Linked DNA regions of Homo sapiens. The protein of the gene in region 1 interacts with the protein of each later gene in a pairwise test. Each region holds a gene or a part of one and is shown on either strand. Other genes may lie near its edges.

The links.
Region 2: the proteins of ESRRA (region 1) and LYST interact in a two-hybrid assay, tested with the Homo sapiens proteins (one study listed by BioGRID).
Region 3: the proteins of ESRRA (region 1) and PROX1 interact in a two-hybrid assay, tested with the Homo sapiens proteins (one study listed by BioGRID).
Region 4: the proteins of ESRRA (region 1) and DUT interact in a two-hybrid assay, tested with the Homo sapiens proteins (one study listed by BioGRID).

The regions. Positions count from the first base shown.
Region 1 is NC_000011.10:64,300,875-64,308,544, reverse strand, and holds the start of ESRRA (steroid hormone receptor ERR1), read right to left. Parts: upstream 3,022-7,670; 5' UTR 2,809-3,021; intron 2,668-2,808; exon of another isoform or gene 1,396-2,667; coding exon of another isoform or gene 1,366-1,395; coding exon 1,041-1,365; intron 1-1,040. Other genes in the region: CATSPERZ (cation channel sperm-associated auxiliary subunit zeta), read right to left, coding at 3,899-4,002, 4,706-4,772, 4,984-5,063, 7,558-7,670. UniProt on the Homo sapiens protein: Binds to an ERR-alpha response element (ERRE) containing a single consensus half-site, 5'-TNAAGGTCA-3'. Can bind to the medium-chain acyl coenzyme A dehydrogenase (MCAD) response element NRRE-1 and may act as an important regulator of MCAD promoter.
Region 2 is NC_000001.11:235,660,891-235,667,911, forward strand, and holds the end of LYST (lysosomal-trafficking regulator), read right to left. Parts: intron 3,732-7,021; coding exon 3,575-3,731; intron 3,166-3,574; coding exon 3,094-3,165; intron 2,189-3,093; coding exon 2,050-2,188; 3' UTR 151-2,049; downstream 1-150. UniProt on the Homo sapiens protein: Adapter protein that regulates and/or fission of intracellular vesicles such as lysosomes. Might regulate trafficking of effectors involved in exocytosis.
Region 3 is NC_000001.11:213,983,984-213,990,976, reverse strand, and holds the start of PROX1 (prospero homeobox protein 1), read right to left. Parts: upstream 3,005-6,993; 5' UTR 2,494-3,004; intron 2,445-2,493; exon of another isoform or gene 2,256-2,444; intron 1,775-2,255; exon of another isoform or gene 1,668-1,774; intron 1,312-1,667; exon of another isoform or gene 3-1,311; intron 1-2. UniProt on the Homo sapiens protein: Transcription factor involved in developmental processes such as cell fate determination, gene transcriptional regulation and progenitor cell regulation in a number of organs.
Region 4 is NC_000015.10:48,327,050-48,334,435, reverse strand, and holds the start of DUT (deoxyuridine 5'-triphosphate nucleotidohydrolase, mitochondrial isoform 1 precursor), read right to left. Parts: upstream 3,008-7,386; 5' UTR 2,921-3,007; coding exon 2,641-2,920; exon of another isoform or gene 2,580-2,640; intron 2,240-2,579; exon of another isoform or gene 2,185-2,239; coding exon of another isoform or gene 2,169-2,184; coding exon 2,030-2,168; intron 20-2,029; coding exon 1-19. UniProt on the Homo sapiens protein: Catalyzes the cleavage of 2'-deoxyuridine 5'-triphosphate (dUTP) into 2'-deoxyuridine 5'-monophosphate (dUMP) and inorganic pyrophosphate and through its action efficiently prevents uracil misincorporation into DNA and at the same time provides dUMP, the substrate for de novo thymidylate biosynthesis.

The DNA.
Region 1 (7,670 bases):
CCGGCCTTTTTTTTTTTTTTTTGAGATGGAATCTCGCTCTGTCACCCAGGCTGGAGTACAGTGGTGTGATCTTGGCTCACTGCAACCTCTGCCTCCTGGGTTCAAGCAATTCTCCTGCCTCAGCCTCTCAAGTAGCAAGTAGCTGAGATTACAGGCGCGAGCCACCATGCCCAGCTAATTTTTTGCATTTTTAGTAGAGATGCGGTTTCACCACCCTGGCCAGGCTGGTCTCGATCTCCTGACCTCAGGTGATCCGCCCACCTTGGCCTCCCAAAGTGCTGGGATTACAGGTGTGAGCAACTGTGTCCGGCCTTGCCTGTTAGTCTTTTTAAAGTTGGGTGCTAAACTATGATGTAGCCCCTCTCAAGTACTGATAAAAATCTGCCTTGTTTTGGGAGGCCGAGGCAGGTGGATCATTTGTGGTCAGGAATTCCAGACCAGCCTGGCCGACATGGTGAAACGTCGTCTCTACTAAAAATACAAAAATTAGCTGGGCGTGGTGGTGCACACCTGCAGTCTCAGCTACTCAGGAGGCTGAGGCAGGAGAATCTCTTGAACCCAGGGGCAAAGGTTGCAGTGAGCAGAGATTGTGCCACTGCACTCTAGCCTGAACAACAGAGTGAGACTCTGTCTCAAAAAAAAAAAAATTAAAATCTGCCTTGTGTTGGTGCTGCTTTGGGAAAATTAACAAAAAGGGGACATGTTCTATGCTGGGGAGAGGTCAGAAGCTGCCAGAAACAAGAACAAAGCTTAGGAACAGACAGAGGCTGCCTTGGACTCTTTCAGAGCCACTGTAGAAGGTGCTGGGCCTAGAGTACCCAGGTGGTACCCTGAACTCACTCACATCCACTGCAATGCATCAGCACACCCGGTGCTTTTACCATACTTCTCAGGGAAAGAGTGTCTCTGGGAGGTAGAGGGACTGGAAACACCAGATTGTTAGCCTCAAGCGGTGCCACAGCCATCAGGGGGCCTATTGCACCCAGCAGTGTACCCAGAGGGTGCAGGGCAAAGGACAGGGGAGTGGGCTGGGGGCTCACCCTGGATGGTCCTCTTGAAGAAGGCTTTGCAGGCCTCACAGGATGCCACACCATAGTGGTAGCCGGAGGCCACGTCCCCACAGACCAGGCAGAGGCGCTTGGGCAGGGAGCTGAGCACCAGCTTCCCACCGCCCTGCTCGCCAGGCCCAGCCCCCTCCCCATCCTCCTCTTCCTTGTGGCCTGGGAGGCAGCGAGTGGGAGCTGGACCAGGGGCCAGGGCCACAGGAGGCTCGGTCTCTGTCTCCGAGGAACCCTTTGGACTGTCAGGGCTGGCCGGCTCTGCCTTGATGTAGAGAGGCTCAATGCCCACCACCTGGCTGGACATGGCGCTGGTCACCTGCACGGAGAGACCCATAGGTTCGCAGGAAAGCACTGGTATGGGGGATGGGAGACACCCTGCCACACGGGTTGCCCAACCTCGGGCCTAGGGCCAGGCTTCCAAGCCCAGCAAGTGGGGAAGAAGGGGGGCAGAGTCCAAGGAAGGACTGCCCAGGAACACTGCCCCCTCCTAGCTGTTGCCATGGAAACAGAGTCTTCAGGGCCAGTAACTGACAGCAGGTCTCCCCCTTGGGAACCTGGGGGAGGCTTAGAAAGCCCCTACTCCCACCCAGGCCAGGGAGCAGGGTAACCGTAGCCCCCAGGCAACCTTCAACCCCACCTGGAATCCCTAGCCAGGAGCAGGATACTTCCCAGTTTTCTCCAGATGTTGGGGGGACCTCTGAGACCCTGCCCTCATCTGGGTATTCTGCATTGGAGAGCAGACCCAAGGCCAGTGGACGTGCTCACACCGAGTTCACACACTCCACTCACCGGGGTGCTCAGGAGCCCCACAAGCCCACGCAGGCTCGCTCTCTGCTGAGGGCTTTCACACTTGCACCGGCCTTCCCAAACCCGTGCTCACTCCTGCTCACACTTGTGCTCACACACTTCTCCTGGAGCGCACACCCCATCCACGAACTCAGTCAAGGCTCATGATCACACACACTCTCACTAGGTCTCCCCACATCCACACGCACAGGCACGGACTCATGAAAACACCTCCAGAGCTTTTCACACCTGACACGCGGCTGCCCTCCTGCCCCAGCATGCCGGTCCCAGGCACACGGCGGGCGCCGCTCCACCTCCTCGCGACCAGCCTGCAGGTCCACTCTTATACTCCCGCTGTCGCAGAGGCCGCCACCTCCCGGGGCGCCGCGTCCCGCCCCCAACCTGCGCACACCTTTGGGAAGTTGCCTAAAGTTGCTACGCCTCCCCCTCCCCGCCCGCGGGAGACCTCTACCAGGTTATCAGGAAGTAAGTGGGGAGAGCCAAGGAGGAGGAAGTTCTCCCCTGCCGGTGCGATGACCTTTGACCCAGAGAGGAGGGTGGCCCCAGGCCCCTTCGAGCGCCCCCACGTGGTCTTCAGAGCCCCTTCCCAGACATAGAGCCCTCCCCGTCTTCCACCCCGGCCAGCCCCAGGGACTTCGGCAAATGCGGGATTGAACCCTGCCCCGGAGCGGGCTGGATCGGAGGCCCAACCCTGACCCGAGTCAGGACCCGCAGCCAGAGCCAGATCCTGCCCCAGGCCGGCCCACCAGGACTCGGACGCCGGATCCCGCCTGAACCCTGACCAGTCCGACCCTCGACTGGGTCCCAACCGTGGCCCGGACTGGCCCCAGAGTCGGACCCCGCCTGCAGCCCGCCCCGCCCGCCTCCCTGCCGCGCTCGCACATGGCCCCCGCGCCCCGCCCGCCCACCCCCGCGGCAGCGCTCCCCTCCGCCCCCGGACCTGGGGCTCCGGCAGCGCGGTCGGGCAGGCATGGGGGCCGAGCGGCCCGGAGTGCCGGAGTGAGCCGGGGGCCGCGGGCGGCCCCTCCTCCGCCGCCTCCTCGGGCCGCGCCGCCCCACCGCGCCGCGTCCCCTCACTCGGCGGCGCCGCCGGCTGCTTGTAGGACACAAAAGGACATCGCGGCCGCTTCCTACTCCGCTTCCTCCAGCTGACAGCGGGGGTGGGGCCGGCCGTGCGCATGCAAAGCAGGGGGCGGGGCCCGGGGTCCTATGCTAATCAGACCAGCGGGGCGGGCGGCGCCTGCGCGCCCGGACGAGTCGGGGCGGAGCCGGCAGCGCCAGTGGGCGGGCCTTCGTGCAGGTCCCGCCCCGCAGCCCGCCGAGCCACTGCGGCGCACATGCGTACGCGGCCCCTGGGAGGGGCGGGGCCGGAGACGCGGAGGGCGGGGACAATAGAGCCGAGAGCAAGTGGGGCCAGAAGCGCTCTTTCGTAACGGAGGAGGCGGGGCTTGCTGCGCGCGAGAGGAGTGGGCGAGGCGGTGCAGGCTGCAGTCGCGGAGCCAAGAGACCACTTACAGATGAAAACGCAAGGGCGGGACGAGCGGAGAGGCTGGACCTGCTACCTATGCTTGAGGGGCGGAGCCTAGCGCGCCGTCGCGAGGAGGGAGGTGCTGCCCCGTTCCCCCTACCCCCTTCCCCCAAAGCGACACCAACTGAGCACTCGAACCGTAGACCCAGTAGCCCCACAGAGCTGCGGAACTCGGGGTGGGTGAAGCCGACTTAAAACATGCAATAAGTCCTGGATTGCGAGTCCCGGAAGGTAGGGCCGATAGGGCCCGGACGGAGAAAGCTCAAGGTCACTGCGGTGACCGAATGAAGGTCACTGCGGTGACCGAATGAAGGTCACGGGGAAGGGCGGGGCCACGTGCGTCCGCCTCACGCGGGCTGTCCTGCACTGACTCACGGACCATGCATCGACTCTTTTATTTCTTTAGGACTCAAATTCCACTCGGATGGGGTCAGGCTTGGGTCTGGGGACCGGGCTGGCACGGGGCTGGTTCGGGTCGCTGCTCGAGCCCAAGGTGGCGTTTTTAATTCACGTACAGCCTCTTGCTCCGGCGCTTCTTGAGCCCTTCGATGTATCGCTGCAGCTCCTTAGTCAGGAAGTGGTCCCTGCCGATCCCTAACTGGTAGCCTAGGAGGAGGGCAGAGCTCGGCTCAGGGCAGTGAGCAACCGAAAGGTCTCCCCACCAGGGGGCGCCGCATGTGTGATTCGAGGAACCGCAGATGATTCGAGGTAGCAGTAGCGCAGGGCACTCAGGTCTGTGTTAGCCTGGGGAACTTTGCATCTCTAAGGGTGCTGAGTGTTAAGGTGGAGGATGGATGAGGTCAAGGCTAGGGAAGAGGTTGCAGGCCTGAACTAGGGCGGTGGTAGCGAGCAGTTTGCCCACCTTCTGGACCAGCCACCCACTCTAAGCCATCAGCTGGCCCTTTATCACCGCTGGGCTTTCCTACCACAGCAGCAAAAGTTCACCCACATAATCCACTGTCCAAAGGCTCCTCACAACTCCCCAACCAGAGGCAGTCGAGGCCACACCAAGGCGGTCATCCCACTGTGCAGGTGGAGAAACAGCCACAGAAAAGCCTCCCTCAGCTGGAGAGGGGCTGCACTCAGCCTGGAGCCCAGGCCTCTGCCCATCACCACATGTCCCCCACTGGGTCTTCCTGTGCCCAGTCCCTCAGCTTTTAACTTTTATGGGGCCCTTGGAATACTTGTGAGTGCCAAGGGCATCTGACAAGACATAAGGCACCCTGAAACCCCACCCCCCTGGGCCCCAGCCCTGCAAAATCCACCAGAATCTGTCGTGGGAGTTCTTGGGGGTTGGCGGGGAGCTTACTCCGGAGGGCTTTGGTGAGGATTTCCAGAGCTTCATTCTCCATGAGTTCCATCAGGGGCAGTGGCAGCTGGAGAAGCAGCAAGAGGCTTAGGCGTCCAGGTACTTCATCTCTGCCCACAGCTGAAATGCCCCCACCTCCTCCCTGTGGCCCCCAAACCCCCAACCAGCCTGCCTGCCCCTCCACCCTGCCAACCACCCCCAACTTTCATATCCTATCAACCCCCAATTTGCCTATCCCCTACCCCACCGAAACGCCCAGTCTCCCCAGCCCCTCCAACCCTGCTCTGCTGCTCTGCCCAGTAGGCTCGATGGGGCATGTGCTTCGCAATATTGAGTGATGACATTGAGGAAGACTTTTCTGGGAGAAGAGAAAAAAGGGTTAGTCATCCGCAGACTCCTGGGCCTTCCCTGGAGCACAGGAGATGGGTAGGCACCTTGTGAGAGGGAATGGCCTTCAGAGACCAGCTCCTGGTGCAGCCTTGGGGTCAGCATGGGACAGAGGTTACAACCCTGGGCTTTAGAGCCCCACCCACATGGTTCCAGTAATGACTGCCCCACAGTGTGACACTTAGGACCAGTGACTGACACTCTCTGACCCTCAAGTTCTTCATCAGTAAAATGGGGTAATAAGAACAGCTCTTGGCCGGGCACGGTGGCTCATGCCTGTAATCCTAGCACTTTGGGAGGCCAATGTGGGCGGATCACAAGGTCAGGAGTTCGAGACCAACCTGGCCAACATGGTGAAACCCCCGTCTCTACTAAAAATACAAAAATTAGCCGGGCTTGCTGGCAAGTGCCTGTAATCCCAGCTACTCGGGAGGCTGAGGCAGGAGAATCACTTGAACCAGGGAGGCGGAGCTTGCACTGAGCCGAGATCGTACATCTGCACTCCAGCCTGGGTGAAGAAGTGAGACTCTGTCTCAAAAAAAAACTAAAAAAAAAAAAAAAAAAAAGAACAGCTCTTGGCTCTTGGCCAAGTGGTGGCTCACGCCTGTAATCCAGGCACTTCGGGAGGCCAAGGTGGGCAGATCACAAGATCAGGAGTTCAAGACCAGCCTGGCCAATATGGTGAAACACCGTCTCTACTAAAAATACAAAAATTAGCCAGGCATAGTGGCAGGCACCTGTAATCCCAGCTACTCAGGAGGCTGAGGCAGGAGAATTGCTTGAACCGGGGAGGCGGAAGTTGCAGTGAGCCAAGATCGCACCATTGCACTCCAGCATGGGCAACAGAGTGAGAATCTGACTCAAAAATAAATAGCCGAGCGCGGTTGGCTCACGCCTGTAATCCCAGCACTTTGGGAGGCCGAGGTGGGCGGATCACGAGGTCAGGAGATTGAGACCATCCTGGCTAACAAGGTGAAACGCTGTCTCTACTAAAAATACAAAAAATTAGCCGGGCGTGCTGGCAGGCGCCTGTAGTCCCAGCCACTCCAGAGGCTGAGGCAGGAGAATGGTGTGAACCTGGGAGGCAGAGCTTGCAGTGAGCCGAGATGGCACCACTGCACTCCAGCCTGGGCGACAGAGTGAGACCCCGTCTCAAAAAATATAATAAAAATAAATAAATAAAAAATAAATAGCTCTTTATGGAGGTTGTGAAGTTTGAAGGTGACAATCCAGGGGAAGCCCCGTGCCTGGCACACAGCAAGTGCTCAATATGTAACCATTGTTATACTGTTATTGGTTCTTACTCTCTGATGAAGTAGTTTGAGGGGGTGCCAGACAGTGCCCAGCACGTAGTAGGGGCTTAGAAATTGTAACCAGCAACTGACTAATGGAAAGACGTACACCTCCTCAACCAGCGCAAATCATAAGACAAGGAGTTAACTCTTGCAACTGGTGGGATGATTCCATTAAAAACACAGGTCTCGCCGGGCATGGTGGCTCACACTTGTAATCCCAATACTTTGGGAAGCCGAAGCAGGAGGATCACTTGAGCCCAGGAGTTTGAGACCAGCTGGGGCAACATGTCGAAATTTTCTCTACAAAAAATAAAAAATTAGCTGAGCAGGATGGTGCCGGCCTGTCCTCCCAGCTCGGGGTGGTGGGGGTGGCTGAGGTTGGAGGATACCTTGAGCCTAGGAGTTTGAGGCTGTAGTGAGCTATGATCACAACACTGCACTCCAGCCTGGGTGACAAAGCAGGACGTCATCTCTAAAAAACAAAGGCCGGGCGCAGTGACTCAAGCCTGTAATTCCAGCACTTTGGGAGGCCGAGGCCGGCGGATCACTTGAGGTCAGGAGTTCGAGACCAGCCTGGCCAACATGGTGAAACTCCGTCTCTACTAAAAATACAAAAATTAGCCGCACGTGGTGGCGCGCGCCTGTAATCCCAGCTACTCGGGAGGCGGAGGTTGCAGCGAGCAGAGATCGTGCCATTGCACTCCAGTCTGGGCGACACAGCGAGACTCCGTCTCAAAAAAAAAAAAAAAAAAAAAAGTGGGAGGCGGGAGGATCACTTGAACTGCAGTGAGCTATAATCGCACCACTGCACTCCATCCAGCCTGGGCGACAGAGTGAGATCCTGTCTCAAAAACAAAACAAAACAAAACAAACAAAACAAAAAAACCCCGCAGGTCCTACCACGGGGTCTTTGCGCAATTTATTTGGTGCGTCCTTCCCCGGACTCTGCGCGTCACGACCGAAAGGCCTGTTACAACGCCTGCCCGGGAGGGGGCGCTCCAAGAATGCCTGGCGGATTTAAAGGGCGAAAGATTGGCGCGGGCGCCTCTCCCAGAGAATCCTAGAAACTTGGATCCCATCAGCTTCCCCCCATTTTACAGCTCCAGAAATTGAGTCCCTGGCCAGCTTATTGCCCTGCGGGTGCCCACGGCCTGGCGAGGCCACACTGACCGGCCTCGATCTGGGATGCAGTGTCCTTCTCCCCCAGATTGATTTCCATGGAGCTGCCGCGGTGCAACTCCAGCTCCACCAGCGCGTGCTCGTCCAGTTCCTCCGGCTTGTGG
Region 2 (7,021 bases), on another chromosome or scaffold:
AAAAAAAAAAAAAAAAAGAAAGTTATCTTTTTCTAGTGATATAAATGCATAGTGGAGCTAAAGACAGAACCTATGTGGGTTACACAGAAAGCCATCGATTTGAGATCTGCTCATAATATTTAAATAGCTTAAAGAAGAGGTGTTTACATCTATTTTTATGAAATTTATTTCCAAATTGAAGAGGCAGTGTATATAAAGGTAACAGAGCTTGTGATAATTTACAGAAATGTTTGCTACAACATGCACATTATGAAGTATTTCAAACATATACATATTAGGTTTCATGCTGAATAAATAATCCCCCCAAATTAATTTTTATTTTTACATAAAAATATAATATTGCACTCTTAACAAGACCAGTTATTCTGCATATTTTCTCTTTAGATAAATGATGAAATTCGGTTTTTAAAAAAAGATGAGTAGCAACCCTATTCTAATAGGGGACTAATTTAAAGTTCTCAGTAAAAAAATGAAAGCTAGACAATAGCTGCAATTTTTTGTTAACAAAGCAAATCACTTCAACGTGAATAGGAGTAATCTCATCTCTGCACCTCCATGGACCTCAGGATTCACACCTGGCCTGAGCACACGGTGATCTAAATGCAGCCTAGGTATCACTACATGTGTATGCAGTTTAAGGTTAAAGCATACATGGCCACGTGCTTTCTCTCGAATCTATCTTGACAGCAGAGACTTTGGAATTATATTTTATATGGTTTTTAAGCAGAATGTTTTAGAAAGTCTGGAAGTTACAAAAGTAGTACTGTAAACACCATATGAATTAAATTTCCATAACAAATGCACAAGTTATTCTTAGGCAGGGATACATATTTTTATCCCATGGTAACATATTACTGAGCTTATCTGACAGTGTTTTCAAAGCCAATAAAGCAGCACCCCAAGTAAAAATATACAGACAGCCATCATATGGGAGAGACAGACGGCTCCAAGATGTTTAGGAATTCTGTCTTTATGGTATGTAAGTTTGCTGTGGAATACACGAGATTTTATTATTCTTCCTAGAATTCTCAGATGGTATAGGTTAGTAGAAACAGAATGAAATGGTTTCCTAAAAGAATTATTCTGCCTCCTGTTTAAAGTAAGCTTTTATAATTCTGTTTTGGGGAAGAAAATTCTTCCTGCAGATTAGATCAAATGCCTTATTTAGGCTGTGTTCTTAATACCCATGCAAACTTCTTGCATACTGAAGGCTTTCTATTGCAAATTGGTACAGATTCAATGCTCTGTAAATAGCAGACTTTAAGACTTACCATTGTGTTTAAACCTCAGTGACTCAACTAAGGATAGTCAATATCTAGCGTTACAGATTTTAAGTAAAATTTTTATGAAGAAACAGAATGTGTCTGAAATCCAAGATACCTGTATTCTTGTTTGTGGCTGTCAAAAAAATTCTGGTTCTCCTTTGAGCTAAGAAAGCAACTGGCAAAAACTGCCTAATTTTGAGATTCATTCATAGTTTATTTTAGTATTTAGATATTCCATAAAATATTTGGTACAGAGGCACCTACTGAATAATTTGCTTCTCAAAGAAAGCAATTATCAAGTCCTAAAAATTATCTTTTTTTCTTTCCTCTTTTGGAGCATGTGTGTGTGGTGGGAGGAGTATTTCATGGCAGTAAACTTTTAAAATATAATTTTAGTGTGTTTTATATAAACAATCAACCAACCAATTTAAATTCTACTGGTCCTTTTGGAATCATAGAAAAAGGGGAGACCTTAATATTTTCTTTGGAATACCTTGGTGGGAAAAAATTTTAAGAATATCATTTTAATGTACCATGCGAGGCTTAAAACTTGTTGGCTAGTGCATATTGACACAATCTTCCAGATTATCACTAAAATAGAACAGAACTTTCCTCTTAGGATCATGTGACTCTTCAGAATTTTGTGCAGATGAATAGACTTTATCATTATTTGGATGGTTTGTCCAGTCATCCATTTCTTTAGGTTCAACCTCCTAAAACTGGTGAAGTCAACAAATCTAGTTTGGAGTTAAAGTGCTTTGGAGAACGTGAAGTTCATTCGCATTCACCCGGCTGCATAGCTGCTAAGGAAGGAATAGAACATTGGCTGTTTCAAGCGCTGCTGGTCCTTCCGACACCAGGCAATCACGGTCCCATCACTGTTTGCTGTGTACAAATGGTGGCCATCACAAGAAAATGTAAGGCTGTAAAAAAAAAAAAATTCCCATTTGTACATTATATTTCTTAAAAGTGTATTAGCATATTGGTCATCATACTGAGGTTAGTGTAAAGAAGTTATCTTCAGTGGCGCAGAGAGACATAAACTAAATGACTGCCTACAACTCATTGGTTTTGACTGTAATTCTAACATAGTCACTCTGCTGACAAGTTGAGATGCTCATAAATGCGGTGATATAGAATAAAATCAGGATCACAAAGCTCAGTACATTCTATTCTTTGCATATCTTCTTTTGCCTCCTTGTTTATGCTTTATTACATAAACAACAAATATTTGGGTGTACAAAACTTTTAAAAATATAACAGTACTATATTTTCTCCTTATAAAGATAAATAAGTATTTTATGGCTATATATTATTTCCCTAAAAGAGAAAAGGAAAAAAATGTAACATTAGTAATTAATTTAGGTTCCTTAAACTTTAAATTTAGTACACTGAAAATACATTTAATTTAATAAAGTAAAATTTGAATCACTTTATTTCTAATTATTTAAAGTCAAATTTGTTAACTAAGCAAAGAGTAACTGATTATTTATCTATTTTGTCAAGCACCCCTGCAGCTATCAATCACCATTATGGTCTTGTCAAATATGAAAGGAAAAAATACAGTCTCTATGATTCCAGAGACACACTACAAGCATGCCTTTCCACTAGACTCTGAGTCACTGACTCGGATTTTAAGCTCCATGAAGACAAGGAGTGTGGTCTCTCTTGCTGCTGGGTCACGGACAACCCGCTGTGTGTTAAGTGGTTGGCTTTTCATGATGACTTCAATTGCACATTTCTTTAAGTCTGTGTGCTTAAATACCTCTCTACGAAAAATACAATCACAAATTGTATTCTGAAGCATAAGAGGGGGAGAAGATCTTACCTGATGATGGGCTTATTTGATTTGGGAAATGTAATTTCTCTCACAGGCTTTAAGTCCCATGTGCTCCATAACCTAGAGGGGAAAAAAATCATCTAATTATGCAAACTAAAATTACTCTCCCTAAAAAGCCCTCTATATTTGTTTATTTGTTAAAAATCATGTGGAAGGAAATGTAACAAACAATTAACAGTAGTTCCCTCTAGGGAGTTTGCAGGGGGTAGATGTGGGAATAAGAGAACTTTTAACTTTGTATACTTCCATACTGTTAATCTTTTATAGTTAACATAAAACTTCAAAACTGTGCTAAAGCTATCTTTATTATTTAGAAATAAAACAGGAATAACTAAAGAACCTACACCCCAAGGTGAGTTTAAATCTCTAAATACTGAATATTAATATGCCTAGATATTAAAAATTAATTTCTGAAACTCCTGTGTCCTTATGAATGAAATCAAAAAAAGAGAATCCAAATTCCTCTTACCTTACAATTCCATTTTCTAATCCCCCAGCGATTACATTGATAGATACTCCCTCAGGCTGGTTGGAGAAAGCCACGGAACAGATGATCTCCCTGCAGTGGACATGTCCAACGAGATCCCCGTTCACCGTCCAGAGTCTGAGGTCACTGCCTCCGCCAGCTAAAACACCCAAATCATCCGGCGGGTTACCAGAATGTGGCTGTCTCAGAGCCCACATTTGGCCCCAGAAGGGCAACCCTGAAGGGCAAGCTCATTTGTTTATTGATGAAGTTTGTAGACAACCCATGACTGAAGACTGTATAAATGAAATTACTACACAAGTTGCACAGATTTTTCTTTTTCATTTTCTTTTGAGACAGAGTCTAACTCTGTCGCCCAGGCTGGAGTGCAGTGGTGTGATCTTGGCTCACTGTAACTGCCTCCTGAATTCAAGAGATTCTTCTGCCTCAGCCTTCTAAGTTGCTGGGACAACAGGTGCACGCCACCACATCCGGCTAATTTTTATATTTTTAGTAGAAATGGGTTTTTGCCATGTTGGCTAGGCTAGTCTTGAACTCCTGACCTCAAGTGATCAGCCCACCTCGGCCTCCCAAAGTGCTGGGATTACAGGCGTGAGCCACTGCACCAGGCCAAGTTGCATAGATCTTTATGTATTAATCAAGAGACAATAACCAGCGAAAAAATAAAAATAAGAAGAAGCAATCTATGTGTACAGTAACAAGGTAAAATAATCATCTTTGTGTAATTGTAATATTTCAGCATATGAACCACCAAATATGAGTTATGATTGAAAATACTTGGAAAGCTAAACAGTCTCCAAAAAGTGAAGGAAATATTCTGTGAAACCATCTATAAGAAGTGACTTGGCCAGGCGTGGTGCCTCATGCCTGTAATCCCAGCACTTTTGGAGGCCGAGGCGGGTGGATCACCTGAAGTCAGGAGTTCGAGACCAGCCTAGTTAACATGGTGAAACCCCATCTCTACTAAAAATACAAAAAAATTAGCCAGGGGTGGTGGCGGGCGCCTGTAGTTCCAGCTACTAGGGAGGCTGAGGCAGAAGAATCACTTGAACCCAGGAGGTGGAGGTTGCAGTGAGCCGAGATAGTGCCACTGCACTCCAGCCTGGGCGACAGAGCAGAGACTCTATCTCAAAAAAAAAAAAAAAAAAAGTGACTTATGTGACTTTTGAAGAAAAAAAAAGGTGTAGTAAAAATTACCTGAGTTAAAACTTAATTCTTAAAAAAAGAAGAAAAAGTATTCTTCAGAACATCTAAGATTAAATCTTATAAAGCAATACCTTATTAATTTTTTCTTTTCAAAGATTACAGAGTAACCAAAAGTTTTTCTTTTAGTTTTCTGGGGTTGGGGGAAGCATAATTGCCTGCCATGCTTTATAAACAGGATGGTTTGGGGGCTGATGATGATATGTCCAGCCTTCTCTGGGGAAATACTCTCATACTGATAAAGCGGTTAGGAGGCACGATAAAGTTTGATGACATAGTCTCACTACATTTAATTTTATCTTTTCATTACATATAAGTAGAGGCTTTGCTTCTGTCTTTTATTAAGACAATGAAAATATTTCATATTTTATAGCAAAGAAACATATAAACAATGCTTCTTTATTTAAAAATATGCCAAAGACCGCCAAATACCACAGATCAAAATGCCCAGTGTGTTGCAGCATTATTCACAATAGCCAAGAAGAGGAAACAACCTAAATGTCTATCAACAGATGCATAAACAAAATGCAGTATGTACATACACACACACACACACACACACACACACACACACACACACACACAATTTTCTTTAGCCGTAAAAAGGAATGAAGCATGCGAAAACATGGATGAACCCTGAAAACATCATGCTAAGTGAAATAAGCCAGACACAAACAGACAGGTACTGTATGATTCCACTTACATAAAATATCTACAATGGGCAAATTCAGAGAGATAGAAAGTAAAATAGAGGTTACCAGGGGCTGGAAGCTGAGGGAGGAGGAATGGGGAAATAGTGGTGATGGCTGCACAACACTGTTAATATAATTAATGCCACTGAACTGAATACTTAAAAAATGGCTGGAATGGCAAATTTTATTTAAATATACATTGAGACACACATGCACACACACACACACATACACACACACACACACACACACACACACATGCCCAATGTTCTACTAAGTTTTCCCATTGTAGAACATTGATTATATCTAAATATAGCATCAAGATGCAGGAGACTCAGTATGCTAAAGAAATAGAATTATAGACAATATTTTCCATGAGTAGGCTACATTTCAACCTTTCTTTTGAATTAAATGTTGGCTAAAATATTTTTTTAAAAGATAAAATAATTAGATAAGTACTAGTAAGGCTAGAAGGCTCATTGAAGTCACTGGAAACATAGCCATAAAAGATATTGAGGTAGGGGTTTCTCGCTGTAACCCATAGCTACCACTACTGCATGGCTTAATCCTTCAAAATAAAAAATCTAAATGTGGGCCTGGACTCTCAAGTATGGCCTGGAACTTAGTAGCCAAAGAATTATCCTAGCAGCTCACTCAGTAACTTGGGCTACCACAAAACCAAATAACTACTCATCTGCCTACTTCTGTAAGTATCAAAATTTGACAGTTACCCAATACCAGATTGCTCGAATGTATAATTTAACACATCAACTAAAAGTCAGAAACCTAGGCATTCCTAAAAAGCATCTCTATCCTTCGTATACACAGTCATGAAAATCAAAATAAATTAAAGAACCACCCCACTGTGAATCTTAGAATATTTTACTAACTCTATCTTGCCATTGGCAACAGAGGACCAGGCTATGGATGTCTCACCTTAGTTCAAAGGCATATATTTTGATCCAGTGATAGAATGGTAAACACACATACAACCCCCCCAGAAATCACTGATTACATTTTCACAGTTTAATACATTTCACATCTTATCACTATAAAAACCATATCCCATCATAAGAACTGAGAAATTATGATCAGGAGGAATGAGCTTGACAATGTAACTTTTGAGAAGATGTTACACATACAGCACAGGCACATAATATAGTTGTCCCTAGGTATCTGAGAGGGATTGGTTCCAGGACCCCTGAGGATATCAAAATCCATGGATGCTCAAGTCCTTGATATAAAATGGTGTAGTATTTGCATATAACCTCTGCACATCCTCCTGTATTCTTTTTTTTTTTTCTTTTGAGATGGAGTCTCGCTCTGTTGCCCAGACTGGAGTGCAGCGGTACAATCTCAGCTCACTGCAACCTCCGCTTCCTTCAAGCGATTCTCCTGCCTCAGCCTCCTGGGTAGCTGGGACTACAGGCGAGTGCCACCATGTCTGGCTAAATTTTTGAATTTTTAGTAGAGATGGGGTTTCACTGTGTTAGCCAGGATGGTTTTGATCTCCTGATCTCGTGATCTACCCACC
Region 3 (6,993 bases), on another chromosome or scaffold:
ACCTTCTCATGTACTTGAGATTTTCTTTCTCCATCAAATTCATATCTAGGACATTTGGCACATGTCTGGGACAATGACAGGCTCATTCTACTTTATGAGATTATTTAACATATGACTTGAAAGAGTTTATGTACATACCTATTCTTTCTGGGCAAGGAGAAAGCATGCTTAAAAAGATAAGCTTTAACAACAGTAACACTTTCAAACTGACTTTGGAATTCTTGGCAGTTACACACCACTCATTGCTATCCAAAGCATACACCACACACACACAAACACACACACACACACACACACACACACACACACACACACACGACAGTTCTCTCTCTCTCTCTCTCTCTCTGCCAAGCACAGACCTGGGAGATAGGCATAAACTGGTAGGAAGCAAAGGAAAAGTCAGTCTCCCTCCACCTGCTGCCTAAAGTGGGGGTGCTTTGGGCTGACTGGCAGACAGAAGCCTGGGACACAGCCTCAGCAGTAGACTGCCAATATCCTTAAGAAAAATAAACAAACACATACCAACTTGCCCCCACCCCCCACCCCAAGAACTCACATGGCAGGGCTCAAAAGAACAACAGCCCAATTCCCATTAGCCCAGACAATCCTATTAACCAGGACAACCATAAATTCATAAACCTCTCCAACCCTCGAGCAAGCATTGTGGTCTAGAGCTGTACAGACACACACAGACACAGAGGAAATTTGCACCTGTCTTTCTTGACACAACACACCTGTCAGGCCCTGCCCATGCGCACTCTGCTAATAGATTTCTGCCTACCTAGGTTAGGAAAGGAAATGAGTTCTTTTTTTTTTCTTTTCTTTCTTTTTTTTTTTTTTTTTAAATAAGGGAGGGCATGAGTGGAAAAGAGAACAGGAGAAGGGAGTCTTCTAGCCTTGACTTTGCGAGGAGGCCACCCTGTGCTTCCTCTGTTTTTATAAGCTCAAGGAGACAGCACAGATCTTCTCGGAAAAATAAAAACAAGCAGGTGAGTTTCCAGCCTTCCCCCAGGCAGAGTAGCCTTCTGGGTTGCCAAGAACAGCAGTTTCACACTCCAACCTGCCTCCTTGAGCTATTTAAGACTAAGCACCACCCCTCCTTCTAGTTCTGTTCTCTGTCTGCCTGGAGGGCTCTCAATTTCCCAAGAAGCTGGGAAGGGGCCAGAGACCTGGGAGTCTGTGGAAAGCTACTTACTCCTCCTTTACCATCCCCACGCTCCATCACTCCACCAACCTTCAGCTTCAGCAGGGGGAGTAACGGGCTGGCACACCAGAAGAATCAACAACTTGCTAAACTGGACTTTGGGTGATGTCTCCCCCCGCCCACTGCGTCCCCCTCCTGATCTGCTCAGGCAAGATAGCAGCTCTTCCCTCCCTCTTCCCGCCCTCCTCACTAGTCTTCCCAGTAACAATTACTCTCACCTCTCCTGTCCTCCCTCCCCAGTCCTCCTAACTGGGGCAAAACGGTAGGTACCACCCAGACGAGACCAGACCGAAGCTGCCCAACACCATAGTCTGCCAGCGATGGCTGGGAGATTCATCGCCTCCCATTTCTGCTGCCCAAGAACCCCCTACTCTTACCCGGCCCGCGATCCTCCGGTCCTCCTCGTGCTGGTGTCCCAATCCCACCGCCACGCGACCCCCCGAGCCTCCCGGTGCCGCCTTACCCTACTCAACTTGACCCAGCCCTGGGTCCAGGAGCTCGGAAGAGGGGCGCCGCGCGCGTTTCCCGGGACCCATCACCGCTCCCCTCCAAGCCGGATTTCCACAATTCGGCTTCGACAGCGTTTTGAGACGAAAGTAACAGAGCGCCCCCCCACCTCCCTCTCTCCTCCTCCCAGTTCCCGGTCCTCTGCTGGGGTTAAAAAAGGAGAAGTGAAAGGTATGCAAATGACAAGCAAATTGGAAGAGCCGGGAAGAAAGGCAGCTATAATAAACAAGACAAAGAGAAAGGACAAGGGGACCGGCCCCGGAGTTTTAGCCTGGGGAGATCGGAAGGATGGGGTTTGGCGGAAAGCGGGGATCTCCACGAACAAAAAAGCGACCCGGTCCCTCTCGCGGTCCTCTCTCCTGAGAAGAGAGAGCAGGAGAAAGAAGGAAAGGGAGCAAACGCCTCCTCACACCCCAGAAACAGTACACAAAAGGTGACAAGATCAGCGACAAGTCCAGCAACATCAGCCTCCCCCCCATCGCCACCGCCACCCCCAGCCACCAGCAGGAAAGAGAAAGAAATAAAAGCCAAGAGGATCACTTACTCTTAGGAACTGGGAGGAGCGGAGCGCTGAGTTCCACGGAGGCTCCCGCTTAGAAACTGTTTAGAGGCTATTTTATTATGATTCATTTGAATAACACCATTTTCTCCTGGGGGGAATAATGTTTACACGGGTCTGAGTAATGGGAGGCTCTTTTCTTCCTTTCTCATTCAAGAACAAGACAGTGCAAGTGATTCTGGAAAAGGGGAGGGACTCACGAGGGGAAGAAGAAGATACTTACGCGGTGCAGGGAGCAGTGGGACCGAGCCTCTCTCTCTCTCTCTCTCTCTCTCTCTCTATCTCTCTCTCTCTCTTTTTTTTCCCCCGGCAGAGAGAGGAAAACACGCGAGTGCACACACGGTGATATCTTGCGGGTGATGAATATGATAATTGGACAAGGGACGGTGAGTCTGTGCGACAGCGAGCGAGCGAGCGGGGCGAGTGGGAGAGGGAGAGGGGAGAGAGAGGCGGGAGGGGAGGGGAGACGAGAGAAGAGGAGCAGGGGAGAGGCGAGGAGAGGGAAGAAGAGGAGAAGAAAAGAAGAGGAGCTAAGGGAAGAGGAGAGAGCAGGAGAGGAGGAGAGAGAAGAGCGGGAGGAGAGGAGAGAGCAGCAGAGGAGGAGAGAGGAGAAGGGTAAAGAAGAGAAGAGGAGCGAAGCGGAGAGGGAGCAGGCGGACCCGGCGAGAGCTCTTTTGCGCCGCTCTGCTTTCCCCGGCTGCAATGGTGTATTATTTCAGAGCGCTCCCTCAGCTGAGGGCTCCGCTCCACAACAAGATTTACTTTAAGACACAGCTGAAGGAAACAGGAAGACTGCACGTCACAGTCTATCTGACGTACCCGGCCCCAGCACCCAATCGCGAGGCGCCTTCGGATTCAAGGGGGGATAGCAAGGCAAGAGAACTTGGGAGGAAAAAAAAATATAAAAGGGGTGGGGGTGAGGGGCTGGGAAGAGAGGAGGGGAGAGGGGCCCTGCGCTCCCCCTCCCCGGCCTCCATCCCCGGCCCCCACCCCCACCCCCACCCTGCCACAGCTTCGGGACGACTGGATCGCCGCGCCTGGGCCGGAGCGAGCCATCTGCGGGCACTATGCAAAGCGGGAGACGGCGCGAGCGGCGCCCGGCTCACACTAGCTCTTCCAGGACGCAGGTCTTTTTTTTTTTTTTTCTTTTTCTTTTTTCATTTCCCAGATACAGCTGATCGAGTTCGCCGAGTGGCCGAGCGAGTGAGCGCTCCTCCGACTTGGGTGGAGGAAGGCACGGAAAAGTATACGGGAGAAAAAGTGGGGGTTTTAGGGGTGGGGGTGGCATAGGAGGAGGGAGGGGGGGATCTGCAAATCATTCCACTTTTTAAACGATCATAGGTAGTGTCAAGGATACGTGTCACCCTTGGTTCCTTTTAAAGGGGAGGTGGACAATAAAATACAGGTAGGTTTGGTATTAAAATAATAGGTGCCAGAGGTTTCACATCGGGTCCGCTGCATCTGTTATTAGACGAAGATCAACATTGGCTGAGTCCCAGTTTATCTCCAGTCCAAATTATCAGGAAGAGGAATATTTACCCTTGGTTACCTCTGACATTAGTTGGATTGTAGGTAAAGCAGCCTTTAAAAATATATATGTTGCAAACATCTGGCGATTACCCTTCACTAATTCACTCGCCCCAGAAAGACCAAAGATAGCTGTTCAATACAGGATTTACACAGTTTTGACGCCTGGGCAACAAACTTTAAAGTTTATTAGGCAAGAAATTTCAAACGCATAAATCGCAGGCTCTAAAATAAAGCCCTAGAAAATTTACTTTGGTTTGACATTTCTTGCTTGAAAAATAACCAGCAAAATTTCTTTAGATAATGTGGCTCTTAAAGATCTCCTTGGGCTTTGCAAGTTACAAATGCAAGCGAGCCTCAGCCGCAGCTAGAACGTCCCTTTCACCGGGCACAGTAAACGGCTTTTAATAAAGCAGCCGCGTTTATGACCTAAAGATCCTATAAAAGCTGGGACTTGCAAGAGCTGCGAAGCAGAAACATTCATACATAGTCTATTAGACACTCATTTTTGTAAGTAGGAGGAGGACAAGTAGTCTTCGTGTGTCCCTCAAATTTAATCAGATCAAAGGTTGAATCATGCTGTGTCGTGACAACAGGGTATTTATGAGGTGTGTTACAAGTACACTGGCCAAACACTACCAATGTCTTCTGCGACACACACACACACACACTCCTTCCTAGGGAATTTACAATTTCAGCCTCAAATTCACCAAACCGTAAAGAGGATATTAAGCCCTCCCTTTGAATAAGAATAGCGATGTTAGTATGTCCGAGTCTATCCCGGCAGGAAACTTTTGGCACGAATTTCAAACAGTGAAAAGGAGAAAAAAAATTAGGTCGGTCAGGTTAGGTGTCGGCGATAAGAAAAGAGATTGCGGGAGCATCCCCAGCCTTCTTCTTTCCCCTTTTGCCGCCCCCACACACTCCCCCCACGCGTCTATCACGGAAGCAACACAGAGGAGCGCACACGCACCACTCACACCTCCAACTATTGACTGTTGTATCAGGTGTTCTAACCGGGATGTGACAGTTGAGGCTGGGAGCAGAAATAATCAACATGCCCATTAGATACAGGACGGAATAATGCTTCTATTGGTTGGGTCCCTTCGAGGTAAGCGGGTGTATTGAGCGGGGAAACTTGGGATCTGAGAATGGATCAAAGCTACTTTCTTTCTTATTTTTCGTCCTACTAGTTTTCTTTAAGAATCTTGGTTTGTACATATAAGTTAGCGCCAGCCCACAAATAAACTGGTAGGAGTAAGGGCTATATACCTTTCCACACCTTAAAACCATCTGCTCAGTTTGACATTTAAAAGGGCGGAGAGCAGAGAAGGAGGAGGGGGGAGTAGGGGGAAGAAAGGAGTCAGGGACAGAGAAAAAGATTCAAACGCGAAAAAAATGGCTTGCACTTTAGCCCACAAGTTTGTGTCAATTGCACATAGCGCTTGAATGCACGTTTTGCACACACCACGCCCGGGAACTGGCGGCGGGAAAAGTTCCCTGAGAACCCCAGTAAGTCCTGTGTCACGCCGTGGGCAAAAGCAGGCCTGAGTCGAAGTCGGGGTAACCCGCTTGCCGAACAAGGAAGCTCTCCCACCCCCAGCCTCGGCGGCAGAGGCTCCCGGCTCGCGACGCTCTGCCGCGGCGGTTCGCAGCCCGCATTAGGGCGCAGGAGCGGCGACTTGAAATAGGAGCGCGCGCCACGCTAGGCGAGCGAGATCGGTTCGCAGCCCAGCTCCGTGAGCTGCCTCGGCGCAGCCCTGTCCCGTGTCCTGTCCTCTACTGTCGGGGAGGCGTACAGGCCAGGCTCCTGGCAACCTCTCTTGCTAGAGCTGCGGCATTCTCCTGGGTCTCGGGCTGCCCTGGACAAGACTTGAGGCCCGAGCCCCCTATCTCGGGCGACTCCCGCTTTGTTTTCTGATAGGGGAGAAGCCTGGAGACAAGGAGTCGCCTAGATATTGGCTCCATCTCTGAAACCAGCCGCCAAGCCTAGGGTTAAGACAACTCCTCCCTCCGCCCCACTTCCAACACAACCCCAGTAACTTAGAAGTTAACGCAAGTTCTGACCGGTCTTGTAACACACTCTATCCGTGCAGGTTGCATTTACTTATTTATCTGAAGGGTGATCTGTGTGTTCTTAGACAAACTCGCAGTTATCACCCATGCATCTGGTTCTGGGTTAAATACACTTCGCCTTGACATTTGCTCGGTGTATGCTCACGCCTCCTGTTCTTTCTTAAAGCTGTTAGGTGGGGGCAGGAGGGAAGACAGTGTGTATAAGTAATTTAAAACCTTACAAACAACTGTTATCAGATCCTAAACAAACCAATTCTGAGAATTACAACCAGATTCAGTTGAGAGGCAAAAGTGGACGTGGATTTTGGAAAAGGGTGCCTAAGGACTTCCAGGTCAGCCACCCACCGCTACCACCACCACCACCGCCACCACTACCACCATCACTATCAGCACCCTGAAGAAGGGAAGAGAGGAAAACCAACCCCAGGGTGCAGGCCTGCCTGCTGCAAGCTTTCTAGAGGCAAAACTGACTGACGGCCTCTCACTCTCATCTCCTGTGCTCAGTGTGACGCCAAGCCCAACCTGGATTTGTTCTGAATGGGGGGGAAGTGAAATGCCACAAGATCAGTAGCAAGTAGCAGCTGCAGCGTTTTCTCTCCTGGGAACCCCACTGCTTAGAAGCCTCCTGAGTGATGTTTGTTTAACCAACAGCTTTCAAAGTAAACAGAAGCCAATCACTCCAAAGAAGTTGAAATATAACCCTTACAAGAATTTGGATCCAGGGGTGCTGGCAGAAAGAAAGTAATTTTTAAAATGATAAAGAACCCACTCCCAAATAAGAGTCTGCCACATTGCTTTAAGGAGCGCAGAATTGTCATGAAAATATAATTTCATCGAAAGGGCTAATTACAATAAGTTGACCTCGAAGAAAATCACTCTTCGCCCACAAAGACACACCCGCGGGGATGAGGAGGTTGTCAGTGATTGAAGGGACACACTACTACTTGATTTTATGGAAGTGGGCGAAAACAATCAAAGGGAAGTACATTCCCTGCCCTGGAGTAGTGAAGTGTAGGCTGGGAGCTCTTCGCCGCCAACCCTGGCTTTGCCTCAGGCACCGAACTTTCCAATACCAAGATATTAACAGATGGTGGTGAGCACATGGAGGGCTGCTACTTAC
Region 4 (7,386 bases), on another chromosome or scaffold:
TATTGTGTAATCATAGGCACTAAGAAAATATTGAAAGAAAATAACTGCAAATCTATTTATAAAATTGTTTTTATATTTTCTTTGTGACCAAGCATACAAAATTACTTTCAGTGTATTTAATGAATTAATGCAACTTTAGTTTCTAAAATCAACCTTGCTATGATGAATTACCAATTCATCTTAAAAGTTTATGAAGAAGGTAGAGGTGGCTATTTTATTATTAAAAAGACAGCTTTAGATAAAATAATTCTCCATGAATATTTTTGGTGGTGTGAAGAGATGTCAACATTGTAAATGTTTGCCCCTGAACAAAAGTTTATTGGAAACTGAGGTACTTATCAGCGTGAAAGGGCAGAAAGGCAAACTTTCAAAAGGTGGATGCTTTACAACCATAGTTTGAAAAGGAAAAAAATGAAGAAAGAACAAAGAAAAAAGGCCAAATACTACTAATAATACTAGCTATCATTGATTAAGCCTTTACTGTGTGCCAGGAACAGTTCTAATTGGTTTACATATATTAACCCATTTTATTCTCACAATGATCTGTGTGATTAGGGAAAATATGCAGAAGGAAAGGAGAAAAACGGGTGGACAAAATAAGAGATAAAGAACTGTGTTGTATCTGTCAGGCAGGGCTTGGTAGTTTACCAAGCTTAGGCTATGAATTTCCTGGCTGAGGGAGACAGCTGATCACCGTGAACGGCCCCTGGAGATGGACCTTGCTTAGGAACAGAATTCCTCTAAAGTCCACATAGCAAATGCTGCTACTCTTGATATTACTGTGGCCCTCTCCTGGGTAGAAATTTAAGAGATTTTACAATGAGCAGAACCGGAAGTTTACTTTGGAGACCTTAATTAACTCTGGTAAAGCAGTACTACCCCTTCTTTCACTGAAATCCCTCTTTAAACAGTTAAGCCCTAATTTATTGCTGATCCATTATTTCCATGTCAATTTCAGTATACAGAAAGTCACCTGTGTTTATTAGGAGTCTACTTAAGGTATCTTAAATCAAGGACTCCCCTAGGACTCAAGAAAGTGCTCCAAAATATACTTTGGAAAGGTCTAGTCAAACTATATCACTCTACTTTTATTCATCAAAATTAAGAGACTGTAGTTTTTCCAGCTACAATTGTCCATACCTACTTTCCTTTTCCTTTTTTTTCTGTTGCTATCATCAGGCACTACTTTCTCTTCTCCTGTGCTTAGACTAATAGTTCTCATGTTTGAATTATCTGAGATACTTTAAAATAAATCCCAATGCTTGGGATTTAGTATAAAATCTCCTTCCCTCTCAGCATTACTTTTCTCCTACCTTAATGGTTCTAAGAACTGGGCACAGTAGTCAGATGAAAAAAAAAAAGCCCAAAATTCGGGATAAAAAATTATATCATCTTCAAGCCTCTGGGGAAATCAATTCAGCTCTTCACAAACTCCTGCCTGTGTAAAAAGTAACACTTATCTAGTTAAGGATTGTTGTGAGGACTAAATACAACAGCATACGGAAAGTTTTTAGTACAGGTAAAACGTGCTGTAGAGATGAAAGTGTGGTAGATTACAGGCAGCTCTGCCTTTCGTTTTCAGATGCCTTCTCAAATTCCGCCCTGGGCCGGATGAATGTATAGAAAATAACTTTTTAAGGCAGATGCATCTTCGTTCATCCTTCTTAGGTATTTTCACGCTCACATCTAGGCTCTCACCTTGGTTTTTCTATTGAGCACAGCATCACCCTCGGGCCACTCGAAAGCCACCATGGGCCTTCCTCTCTATCTTCTATTTAGGAAGGGCACAATAAACGTTGCAAAGTAACGCCTTGCTAGACACCGTATAGCTATTTTACTTATTCTGCAGTCTTTGCCCAAATCTCTATTTAATTTATGCCAAAGATGAAAGCTAAAATTTTAAACACGAAAAAGGCAGAAATCCTATTTATAGCTAGTGTGTTCCTGTGATCTCTCCGGTGACTGTTTCTAGCTGTGGCAGCGGACGGCCGGCCCTTCCCAGCCTCCTCGCCGGCAGGTCCCCGCTCACCTGTACAGGTCGTAGCCCGCGGCGCGCGCGGAGCCCCGGGTGGGGGCCGTGGCGTGCTCGGAGAGCCGGGCAAAGCGGAGCTGCATGCCGCCCACCTCCGCAGGCCGGGCCCGCTTACTGGGTGAAATGGCGGGTGTCTCTTCAGAGCAGGGCATGGCAGAGCCAGAAGGCGAGCGAGGAGACCACCGGGGGAAGAGGAGAGCGCACGATGAGCGTCGCCGCAGGGAGCGCGCCAAAACCGAAATTTCCCGCCAGCCCCGCCCCACCCACCGCCCCTCCCCGGGACGAGTCCACAGTTCTGGCTGAGAGGGGAGGCGGGATTCACATTTTGGGTTTGAAGCCCTTCTCGGAAAGCAGGTTTGGGATGGGAAACTACTGGGTCCCAGTCAACTTTCCACATTCAGCGCGTGGGGCCAACTTTGAAGGGGAGCTTCTAGGGCGTCGCCCTCACACACTAGAAAGCCGCCCCCTCGCCAGGGGACCCTAATGGACCACCCCACCCCCCCCGCCCCCCGCGCGCAGAAGGACCGCTCGCCACCCTACTTCCCCCACAGCCTCAAGCCGCGTGGATTCCTTCCAGACGGCCGGAGCCCCTCCCCCGCCTTTCCTACCCGGCCCCGGCGCCGGGCTTCCCCCCGCCTTAGGAAGCTCGCCCTTCCAGCCAGCGGCCCCGACTGTACTGGCTCCGCGGCAGCCTTGGCTCAGGCGGCCAGCGCTGGACAGCGGCCGGGGAATCCCGTGCTGCGCGGCGCGGCCGAGGGGCGGGCCTGGCCCGGAGAGTACCGCGGCTTCGGCCCTCTGCCGTGCGCCTCGCGCGTTTTGCATCGCTGAGCGAAGCAGAGACGTAAGGAAATGGTAGCAGAGCGCGGGGCGAGGGCAGAGGGGAGTCATTTCCCCCAGAGTTTGGGCTGGTTGGGTCCTCGGCACCTCCGGACGTGCGCCAGGCTTCCACCCTGAAGACGCGCCCGTCCTGGGAACATGACCTCGGAAGCAGTCGCAGCCGCCGCCGGACGAGGGGCGTGGAGAGGCGGTGCCCCGGCAGCCCAGGGATGGCGCAGGCCCTGGGGCCCCAGGAAGACGGCGCCGTTGGCGTCTTGAGTCTTGCTGCCGCCTCTGGCTGCCTAGCCCTCTTGCTTTCGCTCTTCTTGTTTGCTCTGGCCCCCATTTTTCCGAGAGTGTACGCCAGGCCCGGGCCCTGCTCCTGGACTGATTTACCTGGGGCGGCACCGCCCGCAGCCATGACTCCCGGGCTCTGAGTTTAGCGGCGCCCTAAGCGCCGGAACCGCATCTCGGCGCCGGTGACAGTTATTGCGCCCGGGGCCGCTCCCCAAGCTGTGGGCAAGACACCGCGCCCGATTTCCTTTCAGCACCGAGTGTCAGACGTTGTAGTGTTTATTCGACCGGAGGCAGGGAGGGCGCTACTATCCTATCACAGGTTTGGGATAACCCAACAGAAACGCAGTGGGAACCCCTTGGCTAGGAGTCGAACAAGGATCCCGGGTCGTGGTAGTATAGTTTACAGTGGGGGATAAAGCAGTAACTTTCTAGATAGTTGTTAATAATTTTTTCTGAGCTGCAAGTATCTCCTTATTTCTCACAAAAATCTGCGAGCTGAATTGAATGGTTTTGAATTTTCAAAATTAAAAAAGCTGTGGGGCAGTTTTAGAGTATTATTGGGGAAATTTTACATTCGTTGCTATGCCTTTCCATACAGGCCCCCCCTTTTCGGTCTCCTTAACTGGTTCGTCTTCGTAGTTGGAATTCCTTTGCATGAGGCTATGGAATATACACTACCTTCTCTGGACGTTAACTATTAGCTACAGCTTGAGGACTCCCAAATTTATGCCTTTAGCAACACGATCCGAGCCCTGCAACTTTTCGACCTCATTTTGAGCCAACATTATTTTGCTCCCTTATTTTGTTGAAGTACTTTCTCCAGTTATTTACTTAAAATGTTCACATGAGAGACATACTATTTGATTCCTTGCTTGTACTAAGATGTAATGATTGTAACGACTTCATTTTCCTAGACCCAGATAAAAGTCTCGCTTCATTCATGAAACTTTTTACAATCAGTAGTGACCTCTGCCCCATCTTATCTCTTTTAACACTTACTATATCATTCATTAGTCGTTAGCCATATACTTTCATTGTGTAATCTTCTGATGTATATGCATTTTATCTCTCACATGAATTAGAGTCATAAACTTTTATGAATTCTTCAAAGCACTTACTTCAGTGTTTACACAAAAGTTACTTGTTTGGCTTATTACAATATCTAACACCAAGCAGGTTACCTTCTATTTTTTGTTGTTAATCTGTATACATAAAGTGTTTATTGTTACTTTTCAGCTGAGTTTATTTTAGACTAAAAGAGAAACGGCCATAATCTAACTGGCAAAAAGTAATAGGATTCTGAGCCAGTAAGCATTTAATAGAACGTTCTTTATGACAATAGAAATATAACTTGTTATGAACATACACCTTAAATGCAAGATACTGCAGTTAAGAACTAAACATGTTTCAACCATAATTTACTTCATAGTTTTTGTTTTTTTTTTTGAGACAGAGCCTTGCTGGAGTGCAATGGCTCGATCTCGGCTCACCCCAACCTCCTCCCAGGTTCAAGCAATTCTCCTCCTCAGCCTTCCAAGTAGCTGGAATTACAGGCATGCGCCACCACGCCTGGCTAATTTTGTATTTTTAGTAGAGATGGGGTTTCTCCATGTTGGTCAGGCTGGTCTCGAACTCCCGACCTCAGGTGATCCGCCCACCTCGGCCTCCCAAAGTGCTGGGATTACAGGCGTGAGCCACCGCACCCTGCCCTTCATGGTGTTTTCTTTATCAGACTATAGTTATCCTATCAGTCATGCTGATTAATTCAATTACCTAAGTCTAGTGCCAATTTGAACCTTCTGAAAATGCAAGTCAGTACTTGAAAAGCATGGTTGTTTTTCCTATCTTTGCCATTTTGGGGATTTCTCTCTCATTTTAACAAAGATACACATTGTTACTACTTTATGTCAGGTGTATTCTAAGTGCTTTAAAAAATATTAACTCGAGGCCAGGCGTGGTGGCTCACACCTATAATCCCAGCACTTTGGGAGGCTGAGGCGGGCGGATCACCTGAGGTCGGGAGTTCGAGACCAGCCTGACCAACATGGAGAAACCCCGTCTCTACTAAAACTACAAAATTAGCCGCATGTGATGGCACATTCATGTAATCCCAGCTACTCGGGAGGCTGAGGCAGGAGAATCGCTTGAACTCGGGAGGCGGAAGTTGCGGTGAGCTGAGATTGCGCCATTGCACTCCAGCCTGGGCAACAAGAGCAAAACGACGTCGCAAAAAAAAAAAAAAAAAAAAAATTGGCTGGGTGCAGTGGCTCACACCTGTAATCCCAGCACTTTGGGAGGTCAAGGTGGGAGGATTGCTTCAGCTCAGGAGTTCGAGACCAGCCTGGGCAACGTAGGCAGACCCCATCTCTACAAAACATATACAAAATTAGCCAGGCATGGTGGGTGGCAGGCACATGTAGCCCTAGCTACTCAGGAGGCAGAGGTGGGAGGATCACTTGAGCACAGGAGTTGGGAGGCTGCAGACAGTTATTATCATGCCACTGCATTCCAGTCTGGGCAACAGAGTGAGACCCTGTCTCAAAAAAAAAAACTCGTTTAATCATGACAACTAGAGGAAACAAATTCTTTATCCCCATTTTACAGATGAGGATACCAAAGCACAGAGTGATTAAATAACTTACCCAAGATCACACAGATCACAACTAGAAGGAGGTTAAACCACAATTCAGATAGTCTGGCCTCAGAACCCTTGCGTTTAGCCACTGTGCGCTGTAGATTTATATGTCCCCTGTTGAGTCTATGGTAACTCTTTTGCAGTTGTTGATGTTGAGACAAGGTCTTACTCTGTCACCAAGGCTGGAGTACAGGTGGTCCTTCCACCCCAGCCTTCCAGATAGCTGGGACTACAGGCACGTGCAACCACGCCTGGCTAATTTTTCGTACATTTTGTAGAGATGCAATTTCACCATGTTGCCCATGGCGGGTCTCTTGAACTCCTGGGCTCAAGCAATCCGCCTTTCTTGGCCTGCCCAAGTGCTAGGATTACAGGCATCAGCCACTGTGCCTGGCCTTGTGGTAACTTAATACTGACCTTGCTACTGGCTGTGTTTCCAGGTCTGGGAGAGATGTTTGTAGTAAATAAGCCAAGCATTCTTAATTTCACAGTTGATCATACCATCCTTCTTGAAACACTTCCTCCCATTTCACTGGCTGTCTCCTCAGTCTCCTTGGCTCCTCTTCCCTTCTCAACCTGTTATTGCTCACGATAAAAACCCTTGGAGTCTTACTTACCTCCTCTTTCTATCTTAGGTCTTCCCTTACCTAAAAATAGTCTCCTCCTAGGCAGCATCTAATGCTTTACCCTGTTGGGTTTTTCTGCATAGTATATATTGCTATGTAAAATTACATGTATATTCACTTGACTCGTTAGCTGTTTGTTTCCTCCACTATCATATAACCTTCATGATGGATTTAAACCTATCTTAATTTGGGTTTCAGATGTTCCTTTTTAAAACCTTTTCCTGCCTTCTGTGAAATTTACTAAATGTTTTTTATTTCACCTTTCCCCTCTAATTTAGATGTTTTACTCTTTAGTTTTATTATTTTAAATAAATTAAAACATACAGTGTCTAAAATATAAAATTAATCAAAATGATTGTCTTCTGGATAACTCAAGGACCTTAGACTGCTTTAACACCATTAACCCTTCTTTTGACAAATATGCTATTACTGTCTAGTGTATTAAATGTATCTTTTAATCTCAATAAGCATCATTATTTTACTACTTTTTATAGTCATTAAAAAAATATTTACCCATGCTTTTATTACTTTCTTTGCTCCTCTTTCTCATCTCCGACCTCCATCTGGATCACTGTCCTTCTGCCCAAACCTCCCATGGAGAGGATCTCCAATAGACAGTTGAGCTGTCTTAGTTTTTTGTGAGTTTGAACAAAACTCTCAAACTCCTCCTCGGGGGAATATGTTCTTTGGCGATCATTGAGGAATGGAAGAACTGAAAAAATTAATGGAAAATTGTCATCATTTCCTATAACTGAAGGAATCTATATTTCAATTTAGAACATTCCATCATGGAACAAAATACTCATTTATCATGCCACAGTTCACGCTTAATAGAAATATGTGTAAGCCAAAAAAAGACAGAAGCCATACTTTGGGTTCTGGTACCAAAATTTAGAAGTGCTCCTTTGTTTCAAGCCCAGAGGTTTTTATACCATAGGATAAGGTGCCAGTCAGGTTTTGGATAGGTAAGTGTGCCCATC